Regions from separate parts of the Homo sapiens genome. Here region 2 is linked to region 1. The links come from fine-mapping of genetic effects on gene expression. A gene starts in region 1. The other region holds a variant in brackets. All regions are shown on one strand. Distances are between the middles of the regions.

Region 1 (5,370 bases):
CTATAGCCTACTTGCCAACTCCGAGGCCTGGCACGGTGGCTCACACCTGTAATCCCAACACTTTGAGAGCCCAAAGCAGAGAGATCACCTGAGGTTGAGAGTTCAAGACCAGCCTGACCAACATGGAGAAACCCCCGTCTCTACTAAAAATAAAAAATTAGCCAGGCGTGGTGGTGCATACCTGTAATCCCAGCTACTTGGGAGGCTAAGGCAGGAGAATCGTTTGAACCCGAGAGGTGGAGGTTGTGATGAGCCGAGATCGCACCGTTGCACTCCAGCCTGGGCAATAAGAGTGAAACTCCATCTCAAAAAAAAAAAAAAAAAAAAAAAGGAAAGAAAGAGAGGGAAACAAAGAGAAAAAAAAAGTAATAGACTACTGCCACCTCTGACGTAATGCTCATCCTTCCCAGAAAGAGCAGATTTTCTCTGGCAAATGGTATCAGAGATCAGAAAACAAGCTTCCAAATTCCTTCTGAGGTATCCTCTTACAAGCAGAAGTGCACAAGATTACTGTTTGTAGCCCCAGGTAGGGAGAAAAACGAAACATCATCGCTGGTACTCACATCAGAGGAAGATCAAGGTAGCCAAAGACCCCAGAAGGTCAGACACAAAGACCACTGAGACAGGCAAGGATTAAGGTCAAGGCTGCCTAGAGCAAGCTGGAAAATGAGGGTAATAATTACAAGAGCAGGCCCAGGTATAGGCTTATGGGTACTCGTCTGACTCCAAGGCAAGTGGGCTGTTAGGCACCAGACAACTTAGAAAGAGCAACCTCCCTTGCCTTTTTCACAAAAGGGCCAACAGTCTGGAGATGAGTAGATTATAGGGGTTTGTGCTCCTGTATCACCTCCATTCATCACCTCCTTAGTCAAGGCTCTGAACTGCTTTTTCTCTCCAAGGATCTGAAGCAGGTATGCAAGCAGCAGATGTTGATTTTTGTTTTCATTTTTTTTTTTTTTTTTGAGGCAGGGTCTTGCTCTTTCACCCAGGCTGGAGTACAGTGATGTGATAATAGCTCCTGGGCTCAAGCAATCCTCCAGCCTCAACCTCCCGAGTAGCTAGGACTACAAGTGCGCCACGGAACCTGGCTAATTAAAAAAAATTTTTTTTTGTAGAGGCAGGGTCCTACTGTGTTGCCCGGGCTGGTCTCCAACTCCTGGGCTCAAGCCTTCCTCCCCTTCCACCTCTCAAAGTGCTGGGATTATAGGCATGAGCCACTGCGCCTGGCCGCAATTACCAATTTCTAGGGGTTGTGAAAATGAAATTTGGTATGAAATGTATTTCATTAGGAAGGATGTAATTTCCATACGGGCTGATTTTGTCCACTGCTGTGTCTCCAGCGTCTAGAACAGGGCCTAGCACGTTTGTGTAAACTCTTCTTATAGTCCTCTGCATCGGGAAAGGGATGGGAGGTAGCACTTCCCAACCCACCCCAGTGTCCCACTTGCTCTTCCTTGGCTAAAAATGCAGGCTCATTTTTGCCTCCTCCAGGACTACAGATGGTACGCGGTCCTGTCCAAAGCAGCTTAGCAAAACCGGCCAGAGGCTGGGCACAGTGGCTCACCACTTTGGAACACCTGTAGTCTCAGCACTTTGGGAGGCCTAGGCGGGCGGATGGCTTGACCCCAGGAGTTCGAGCCCAGCCTGGGCAACATGGCGAAACTCCGTCTCTACAAAAACAAAATACAAAAAATTATCCAGGCGTGGTGGCGCCCGCCTGCAATCCCAGCTACTCGAGAGTCTGAGGCGGGAGAATCGCTTAAGCCTGTGAGGCAAAGGCTGCAGTGAGCCGAGATCGCGCCACCGCACTCCGGCCCGGGCGACAGAGCGACACCCTGTGTCAAAACAAAAACCGGGCCGATCCCCAAAACGCCTTTCACCTGTGCTTTCAGCTCACCTCAGGGCTCAGGGCCAGCCCCCAGGCTGCTTCTTGCCCTCCGACAGACGGCCTCCCCCCATCGGTACTCCCCCATCCCGGACAGCTCGTAACGCCCCAGCCGCTCGGCCTGGCACTCCTAGGCAATGGGGGTCAGAGCAGAGGGGCCCATCTGCAGCCCCAGGGCGCACTTCGCGCCACGTGGCTTCTGCAGGTGGAAGTCCAGCCCGCGCTGCAGCCCCGCCTGGGCAGTCAGGACAGCAATCTCAGCACCCACCCGAGATGTGGGGATTGGAGGTAGACAGGGCGAGCGCCATTGTCCCAAGGCCCCTTACCTGGTCCCGGGACAAATGCCACCAGTTACAGCCCGCCTTGAAAACTGGCCCGGGTGAGAGGAGGACCTGGGCTGGGGAACTGCCCCCACGCCCGCCCCACGCCCCTCCTTTTCGACCAATCCCAGGCCGGGAGGCTCCCGCCAGCCACGTGGGCAGGCTTTCTCCACTCCCTGGTCCAGGCGAGCCGGCGGCGGCCTCTGCAGCTCCCGTAGCCCGCCCACTGCGTGGGCGGGCGCCTTAGCGCACTTGCGCACTCTGGGGAAAGCGGAGCTGCACCCCGCCCCGTATTGCTGCTCAGCTCCTCAGCTGTGCGTGCGAGGGACGTCGGGGGCGGCGCCGCAGCAGTTGCCCCTGGTAACGGGGGAGGCAGCAGGAGGAGGAGGAGGAGGAGGGACTCGGCGGGAGGATGGTGAGTGTGGGGGCCTGGGCCCCCTTGGAGCCGGCCGGTTATCCCCCTCCCGTCCCCAGGCCCAGGGCGGAGCACTGCGCTTAAAGCCAAGGAGGGAATGGGACGTCGCTCAGCCTGCTATCTGGGTTGTGGACTGATTTCGGGGGTCGGCGGGGAGACCCGAGGGTGGGCCCTGGAGGGAGGCCTGGGCCTGGAGAGGAAGGCGGGGCTTGCAGCGGGTCCGAGGCTTGGGGAAGGGGCTGGCAGAGTGCGCGGCTGGCCGGGTGCGGAGCCCGGGCTCCATCATTACTCTGGGGACAGGGGTGAGGGCGGATCCCAGGAACTGCGGAGAGCAGCTTTCGCTAGCAGGCTTAGACTTCCCGGGCAATCGGTCTCGCGGCTTTGCAGTAAAGTGGGGTTCGTCTGGAGCCCGGCCAGAAGCGGAGAGAAGGCCGGCCCCATTGGCTCTGAGGTCGCCCTGGCGGTAGCAGGGGAGATGGTAGCCTAGCTCTCCTCCTTCTCGCGCTGTGCGGGCCCCTGGGGGGTAGGGAAGTAAGTCCCACGACACAAAGGGGTGCCGCTTGGAAGGGATGCCTGGTGGATTTTACGCCGTCTTGGTGTCTGCGTGGCGGGTGCGCTTCCTCAGTCCCGAATTATTTAGTTATTTGCTGAGAGTTTTGCAGGATCTGATTGTTGGTGATGACCGATTTTTCATTCAATACATAATCCATGTTGATGAAGACATATTAGCTGCTCCGTCTCTAGAATTTCCTTCGAAACCTTTTGCAGTCTCCTCTTGCGTGTGACCATACCAGGACCAAAAGATCTTAATCCTAGCTTGAGTTCTCCAAACTGAAAAGAACGAGAAGTTAAAAATGGAGATCGAACTTCAATCCGGGGCAAGGCTTTTCTCTGTCAGTCCCAATTAAAGCTTTCCCAAATTCTAAATTATGGTTGTGACAGATCTGACCGTTGACACTCTGTTTCTTGTTAATGTCTGTACAGTTAGTTGGAGGGAGTTAAAATGGAATTGAGTAATTTTAGAGCTATCAAAGAAAAATTGATTTTGAACACTTAAAGCAGGTTAGTTGGCTGCAAAGAGCCTGTCATCAAACTTATAGTCACTGCTCCAACTCTCTTCCTAGTTCCTTTCTTGACTTTTAGAAATGTTGAGCCATTTCTGTTGATTTAAGAAGTAAAAAAAAAAACAAAAAAACTAGATGCCCAGGAAAAAAAAAAATAGATGTATGTTTGGTCAGATTATCCAGTGAGTAGATTTAGAAAGGAAAAAAAAAACTCAATTGATTTTACATTGTCAGATTGTTAAAGAAGTAGGGTTATTTGATCTGAAGTTGCCAATCACATTTCACACTTGCTACACTTGCAGTTTTTTTTTAACCTCAGGCTAAACAGATTTTTACAACTGTTTCTTTTTCTTAATCATTTATACGTGAGCTGTCCTTTTAAAGTTAAAGTTTTTCTCAACAAATGAGTACAAACATAAATATTTACCCAGAAAATAGCTAGAATTGGAATGAAAAGGGCATGCCGAACCAACAGAGATTGAGATTCATCATTATGGATGAGAAGTGCATGAGAGTTGGCTAACTTTTCCCAGTTTGTTGATCAATTAAGTGTACTGTGTAATCCATGATTGTTTAATTTATAATTACAGGCCACAGTAAATTAACCACTGCCCATGTTTCCAGGTGCAAATTGGCACAGTATACAACAAATTTACAGTGTATATACAACACTGTTGTATACAACTGTTGTGTTCAATGATGAAAACAGATTTTGTTTTTCTTTTTTCCTTTTTCCTAAGATGAACAATAAGAAATTAAGACAAATTATTCCGGATTCTTTATCTGGTTTCCCAAAAACATTTTTTTTCTATCTCCACAAGCGTGAGCTGTTCTTAAAACTTGAAGTGAAACACTGAATTTAGTCAGTCGTGTGACTTAAGTGTATCCCATCTGGTATCCCATGAGCCCCCATGGTTAACTGTACAACTGAAGCGTGAACCCCAAGGTTTTTTTGGTTTTTGTTTTAAACTTCAGCTGTGACAAATACATATTTTTTTTCAAATTTGGGTAACTGTGGCAAAAACCCAAATATGGGTTTCTCTGAACATTTAGAGTCAGCTATTTTACCCCTGCTTTACAGTGCCAGGTTCTTGATGAATTACTAAAATACTAAAATGACAGTAATTTTAGCACGTAACTAACCACTTATATTTAACATATGATTCCTTCATTCAGTAATTATTTATGGAGCACTTTCTACATATATGGAGCTTGTGGTCGTTCTCAAGCATGTTCAACATTTGAAGATTGTTCCCAACAGTTACTTATGTTTTCTGGTTAGAAAATGGCCCGTGAAAAATTATTTTAAAAAAATAAACAAAACACGAGGGTAGTCTTTTCAGTGGCTGTTATGTGTCATGCTTTACATACATGACCTCATTTCATCCTCATAGCATCATCTCTTGAGATGTAAGTATTGTTCCTGTTTTCTTCTTTTTTTTTTCTTTTTTTGAGACGGAGTCTTGCTCTGTCACCCAGACTGGAGTGCAGTGGCGCGATCTCCGTTCACTGCAAGCTCCGCCTCCCGGGTTCACGCCATTCTCCTGCCTTAGCCTCCGCAGCAGATGGGACTATGGGCGCCCGCCACCACGCCCGGCTAATTTTGTGTGTGTGTGTTTTTAGTAGAGACGGGGTTTCACCATGTTAGCCAGGATGGTCTGTATCTCCTGACCTCGTGATCCGCCC
Region 2 (5,370 bases), 39 kb after region 1:
AACACTCACTGCAGTAGGTTTGTTTTTCCAAAAAGAAATTTAATTTAACCCAAGTGTACACTGTCACACTGTAAACACATGGGGCACCAAAAGGGTGGCTTATTGAATTTAATGCCCTGGCAAAGGTCACCTTTTAGAAAAAGCCAAAAATGGCTGGAATCTTTCCTGATAGCTCTTCAGTCAGGCTTTGGATGCAGGCAGATGTGTTTATTTTTTCAGAGGGAGTTCCTGAGGACCCATCTCAAGTTCAGGCGCTGGGCATCCCCCTCCCATCGCCCTCTTGTGCTCTCAGAGACCTCCCTCCTCCTCCTCCTGGGAGGTCACTGTCCCTGGTCACCCAGGTGGGCCCCTGAGCCAAGCAAACTCCCTAAAGCTGGCGGTCTGGGAGGGAGGGCCTGGGACCCCCACTGCCCGCCCCTCCAGGCTAGAGTGTGTGGTGCTTTTCTTATAACTAACACTGCCTTTCTCTGCCCATTTCCCTCAAAGGATGGCATGAACTGGGTCTGCAAAAATGTCAATGCAAAGAAGAAATAAAATCTAGACGAATGGAGATGCAGGAGCTGCGGGAGCCGAATTCGGTCCTGAAAAACACTAATTTGCTGCTTTCTGACCAAATGTTTTTCCATCTGTGTACAGCTCCAGCTGTTTGAAGAGAGGGAACAACACGGTTTAGAAAGAATCCCCATTCCAGCAGTAGATTTAACTGATCTCTGAGGTTCAGTATCATTTTTCAAATAAAGGAATTATATTATTTCCTCTGCATAATTGAAATAGTATTAAATGTCTCAAAGCACATGATTAGAAAATGAGATCTTTTAAATGAGCAAGAGATTGCATTGCAGTTTAGACAATTCCAGTGGGCTTTTTTTTCCTCTCAAAAAAAAAAAAAGAAAAAGAAAAAGAGGAAGAAGCAGCTTTGCTGAGTTCATTTATTTACTGACCCGTCCCTTGCATTCCCTCCATGGTTTTGAAACCACAGACAGTGTTTGCTGGTGCTGTCAGTGATTTTTACCGTCACTAGCCCAGCCAGGCTTCAGTCTGTCCGACAGGAAGCTGCTGGGTGGGGGTGGGGGGAGAAAAGGCAGATAATTAAACCATCTCATCGTCTTGCAGGTCGGAGACTACGTATGTAATCCTCACTCTTTGGACAGAAAAAAAAAAAAAAGTCTTTCTTGCAGACAAGTCACTACAGAAACATACCCCATCCCACCCACCCCTGCCTCTGCCCCAGCCAGCCACACAGAGAAGCAAATTCTTATGACTTTTGACTGTAATGACATCTGGAATGTAAGGAGAGGTGGGAGGTTTAATTCCAGAAAAATTACAAGGTCCTTAAAAAGCTCTCACATCGAGGGCTCAGGCTAGCGTAAACAGGCTTTCTCCAGCTCAGTGGAGCAGTGAGCAGCCGACTCTGAGATTAGCTGGCTTCTCCACGGCCGTCCTATAGACAGGATTTCTAAAGCTCAAAGAATTCTGTGTTTAAACGATCACAATAGGCCGCTGCTATCAGATTTTAGAAATAAATGCAGCTTTACCATGAACCTGCTCCACTGAGAAAAGCCAGGCAGATCGATTTTTAGATCAATTTTTACAGTGCTGGCAACTTGGTGGTGTGGGATGCTCCTGGATGGAGAGGGTTTGCTGCTGGGGAGGACATGGGTGTGTGTGTGACTGCAGGGGTCGTGTCCAAGGAATCAAGAGTCACCCCAGCTGCTGGGCTCCTCTGCCTCTCTGCAGCAGAATGTCCGTCCTCTGTTGATTGATTGGAGAGGAATAGCAGAACATTTCTCCTGCCCCTCGTTGCAAAACGAGCTTGTTTCCCTGAACCTCAGAAATCCTCAGCTTCAAACATGGGGAAACAGGCCAGAGCATTGCCCGGCTCCTGAATTAAACTCTGTTCTGGTGCCTGAGCTCAGGGGTTTTCAGAGAATGAATAAGAGACTGTCCAGTGACTGGTGGGTCCCTGGGGGCCAGCTGCCTTCTCATCCTGGGAGGTGGCCCTTCCCAAGCCCATCAGGGCGTGTGAGCAGACTGAAGGGGCCGCTGCAGCCCCTGGCCCTCAATACCCAGCTGCTTCTGGCTAAGAGTGCAGCAGAGACTGAGGCATAGCCAGCTTCAAAAGCGATCTGACATGAAAGTCATTAACAAAGCCAGCCGTGAAAAGGTGCCCCAGAGTTGCTGTGGACAGACCTGTAAGGACTTGCAAAACAAAAGAAAGTGAGGGGTTTTTTTAACCTCAGAGCTAGCTGCTCTCTGCAGCCTCCTCCACTGGCTTCTCTGGCTCACCCAAGCTCTCCCTTACAGAGGCAACACAGAATTATAAGGAATCAGAAATCCCCCTTCTACCAGGCTGCAAATGTGGCTCTAGCACTTGCAAATTGTTTTTTCTTCCGAATAGTTCAGCAGGGACAAGTTATCTGAGGGGCAAAATGCCTGCTTGGAGGTCTGCAATTTTGGAACACTGCAGTATGGAACTTTGGCATTGGAGGGTCTGTAAAATATTTTTGTTCTTTTACCACCAACTTAGGGGACTGTTTTAAAGAGCCATCCCAAG[G/T]CCTCTCCTAGCAGGCAGAAGCCACTCCTCTGATAACGGCCTCTGTAAATGTTCTGATTTGCTCTCAGCTGCAGAGACACAGAGACACTGCAGATGTCACACGCTTTCATCTTCCCTTTGAGCCCTTTTGAACCCTCCTGGGGCTCTGGGGTAGATGAGAGAAGCCTGAAAAAGGCAGAGTTTGAAAGCTCCCATTTAAAAACAAAATACTTTTTAAAGCCCTCTTGCCTCTTCCCTGCCCACTCCTGCCCCCTGACCAGAAGACAGAATTTGAAGCTGGAAAGGGAAGACCCCTTTTCCCCTCCTCCTGTCCCCAGTGAGTCTTAGCGAGACTTTTGCCCTGCGCACAATTGCATCTGAATGTGCGGGGGAGAGGGCTGGGGGCCGGAGGGCAGGCAAGGCCTGGGGGGTGCTCGTGATATGTGCTCAAGCCAGTTGTGGGAAAAACTCGAGTCCTCCCCTCCTCCCGACCTACCCCGTGTGGCTGCTTTTGGCTGGATTCCCTGCACCCAGTGCAACACACCCTTTCCCCTTCACTCTCCCTTGGTTACTATGGAAACAAGGGTGTCATTGATGTGGGCTGAGCTGGGGAACATGTCGGTGCACAGCTGAAAGTCAGCGATTATGCCGGCGGTTAGAAATGTGCCAGGGTTAAAGGAGTCCGCAGCTCCCACGGCTGCTGGGAGGACATGGTCCTGCCCCCTTCCTTCCTCCCTCCCTCCGTCTCCACTTCTCTCTCCTTGCTTTTGACAAATTTCTTTATTCCCCTCTGGACTAAAGTAGTGGCTATTTTTGTGCCACTCTGCGCCCCACCCTCACTGTTGGCCGCTCCTTATCCGGCCTGGCCTGGAGGGTGACACCATGTCACCCTCACCAGGACTCGTCTCTCCATTCCCGTCAGAGTTTGCTTTGATTTCCCTTTCCTTTCCTTCTCGGGGACCAGTTCTTACTTCCTTTTATTTTTAGCTCTGCACTCCATGTGGTTTCAGGGTTCAGTCTGATCCATCAAAAGGTTCTTTTTTTATAATCCCTTTTGAAAATGATAATCAAAGGAAGAGATGTGGTGTTTGGTCATGTGGAAAACTCAATGTATAATTTAGACGTCTGTCAAAAATCCGACAAATAAAATTTAGCTGGAACGAAGGCAGCCTGGAATGTGTTGTGTTCTTTGCTGAAGCTCAGAGAGGGCCTGAAATGTGTTTGTCCTTTCAGGGGTTAGCTTTCTTCAAGAGGTTTTTTCCAGAAGGATATATATATAAAATAGGATACCAACAATAGCAATAATAGCCCTTCATTAAGCCCCTCCTACGTGCCGGGCACTTCAGATACATCGTGGTGAGCATTAGTCCCCCTTTGCAGCAGAGGACATTGAGACATTTGCCCCAGTTAAGGAATTTGCCTGAAATCACAGAGCCTTTAAGTGCAGGTGGGGCCTGGAGCCTGGGTCTCAATGCTCAGCAAGCTGCCGCCTCTGGAGAACAAAAACAGTCAATGGCAAGGCCGGATCACGCCTGTAATCCCAGCACTTTCAGAGGCCAAGGCAGGTAGATCTCCTGAAGTCAGGAGTTCAAGACGAGCCTGACCAACATGGTGAAATCCCGTCTCTACTAAAAATACAAAATTAGCCGGGCGTGGTGGCACGTGCCTGTAATCCCAGCTGCTTGGGAGGCTGAGGCAGGAGAATTGCTTGAACCCAGGAGTCAGAGGTTGCAGTGAGCTGAGATCGTGCCATTGCACTCCAGCCTGGGCAACAGGAGAAAACTCCATTGCAAAAAAAAAAAAAAAAAAAAAATTTGTCAATGGCTCATCTCCCAGCAGCCTCAGCCCCCCCAGCCTCTGAGTGCTACTTCTGCCCAGCCTCCTCCCCTCAGCCTCTGACAAGCACTGCTCCCCTGGGTTCCCTGCCCCAGGTGTTGGGTGTCCTCTGCTCACACAGCACAACCATAGACTGGGTTTCATCCTTGGCCAAGTCCAGCCCAACAGACAGGAAAAAGGGAGAAGAAATAATTAGCAAAGTTAGGGCCTTCAGGGAGACTTGCAGTTACATAGTACCTAATACTGGATCTTCCATTTACAGAGGGTTCCGAGAGGGAACAGACCTGCCCAGTGTTACATGGAAGGTGCAGAGTTGGCAGCTGTCCCGGGCTCTGCCCTCTGGAGCAGAAGAGTTCGTTGTCCCTTCAGCAGGCTAGAGACACAGCAGCACAGCTGGTCCCAAAGGGCCTCACCATTTGTGTGTGTGTGTGTGTGTTTTGTGTTTTTGAGACAGGACTTCGCTCTGTCACCCAGGCTGGAGTGCAGTGGCACAGTCACAACTCACTGCAGCCTCAACCTCCTGGGCTCAGGCCATCCTCCCAACTCAGCCTCCCAAGTGGCTGGGACTAGAGGCATGTACCACCATGTCTGGCTAATTTTTTTTTTTTTTTTTTGAGACAGTCTCGCTCTGTCGCCCAGGCTGGAGTGCAGTGGCGCAATCTCAGCTCACTGCAAGCTCCGCCTCCCGGGTTCATGCCATTCTCCCACCTCAGCCTCCCTAGTAGCTGGGACTACAGGCGTCTGTCACCACGCCGGCTAACTTTTGGGGTTTTTTTGTATTTTTAGTAGAGATGGGGTTTCACCGTGTTAGCCAGGATGGTCTCAATCTCCTGACCTCGTGATCTGCCCACCTCGGCCTCCCAAAGTGCTGGGATTACAGGCGTGGGCCACTGCGCCCGGCCTTTAAAGAGCAAGCTGTGGGCAGAACTAGCTGGTAGCTGGAAGCAGGAGAAAGAAGAATTAGGGTTGCCAGATACATTACAGAACATTCAGTTAAACTT

Evidence for each region. PIP is the estimated chance that this variant, and not a neighbour inherited with it, causes the effect. A credible set is the group of variants that fine-mapping cannot tell apart.
Region 2: its variant is the best candidate, but not a certain one, in a credible set for the expression of ARL3 in lung (TOPMed, PIP 0.76).

The regions. Positions count from the first base shown.
Region 1 is chr10:102,711,523-102,716,892 of GRCh38, reverse strand. It overlaps ARL3 (ARF like GTPase 3), which reads left to right and starts at 2,496. Exons shown (of 6, transcript NM_004311.4): 1 at 2,496-2,620. The coding sequence starts at 2,618. It overlaps SFXN2 (sideroflexin 2), which reads right to left and starts at 2,257. Exons shown (of 12, transcript NM_178858.6): 1 at 2,212-2,257. RefSeq lists enhancers at 1,279-1,854, 1,855-2,431 and silencers at 2,217-2,366, 2,185-2,579, 2,647-2,696, 2,737-2,836.
Region 2 is chr10:102,672,058-102,677,427 of GRCh38, reverse strand. It overlaps ARL3 (ARF like GTPase 3), which reads left to right. Exons shown (of 6, transcript NM_004311.4): 6 at 487-3,697. The coding sequence ends at 534. Among named protein-coding and RNA genes, the nearest start is that of TRIM8, 30 kb to the right of the region's middle. RefSeq lists an enhancer at 3,074-3,623. The variant G/T (reference allele first, on the strand shown) is at 2,555.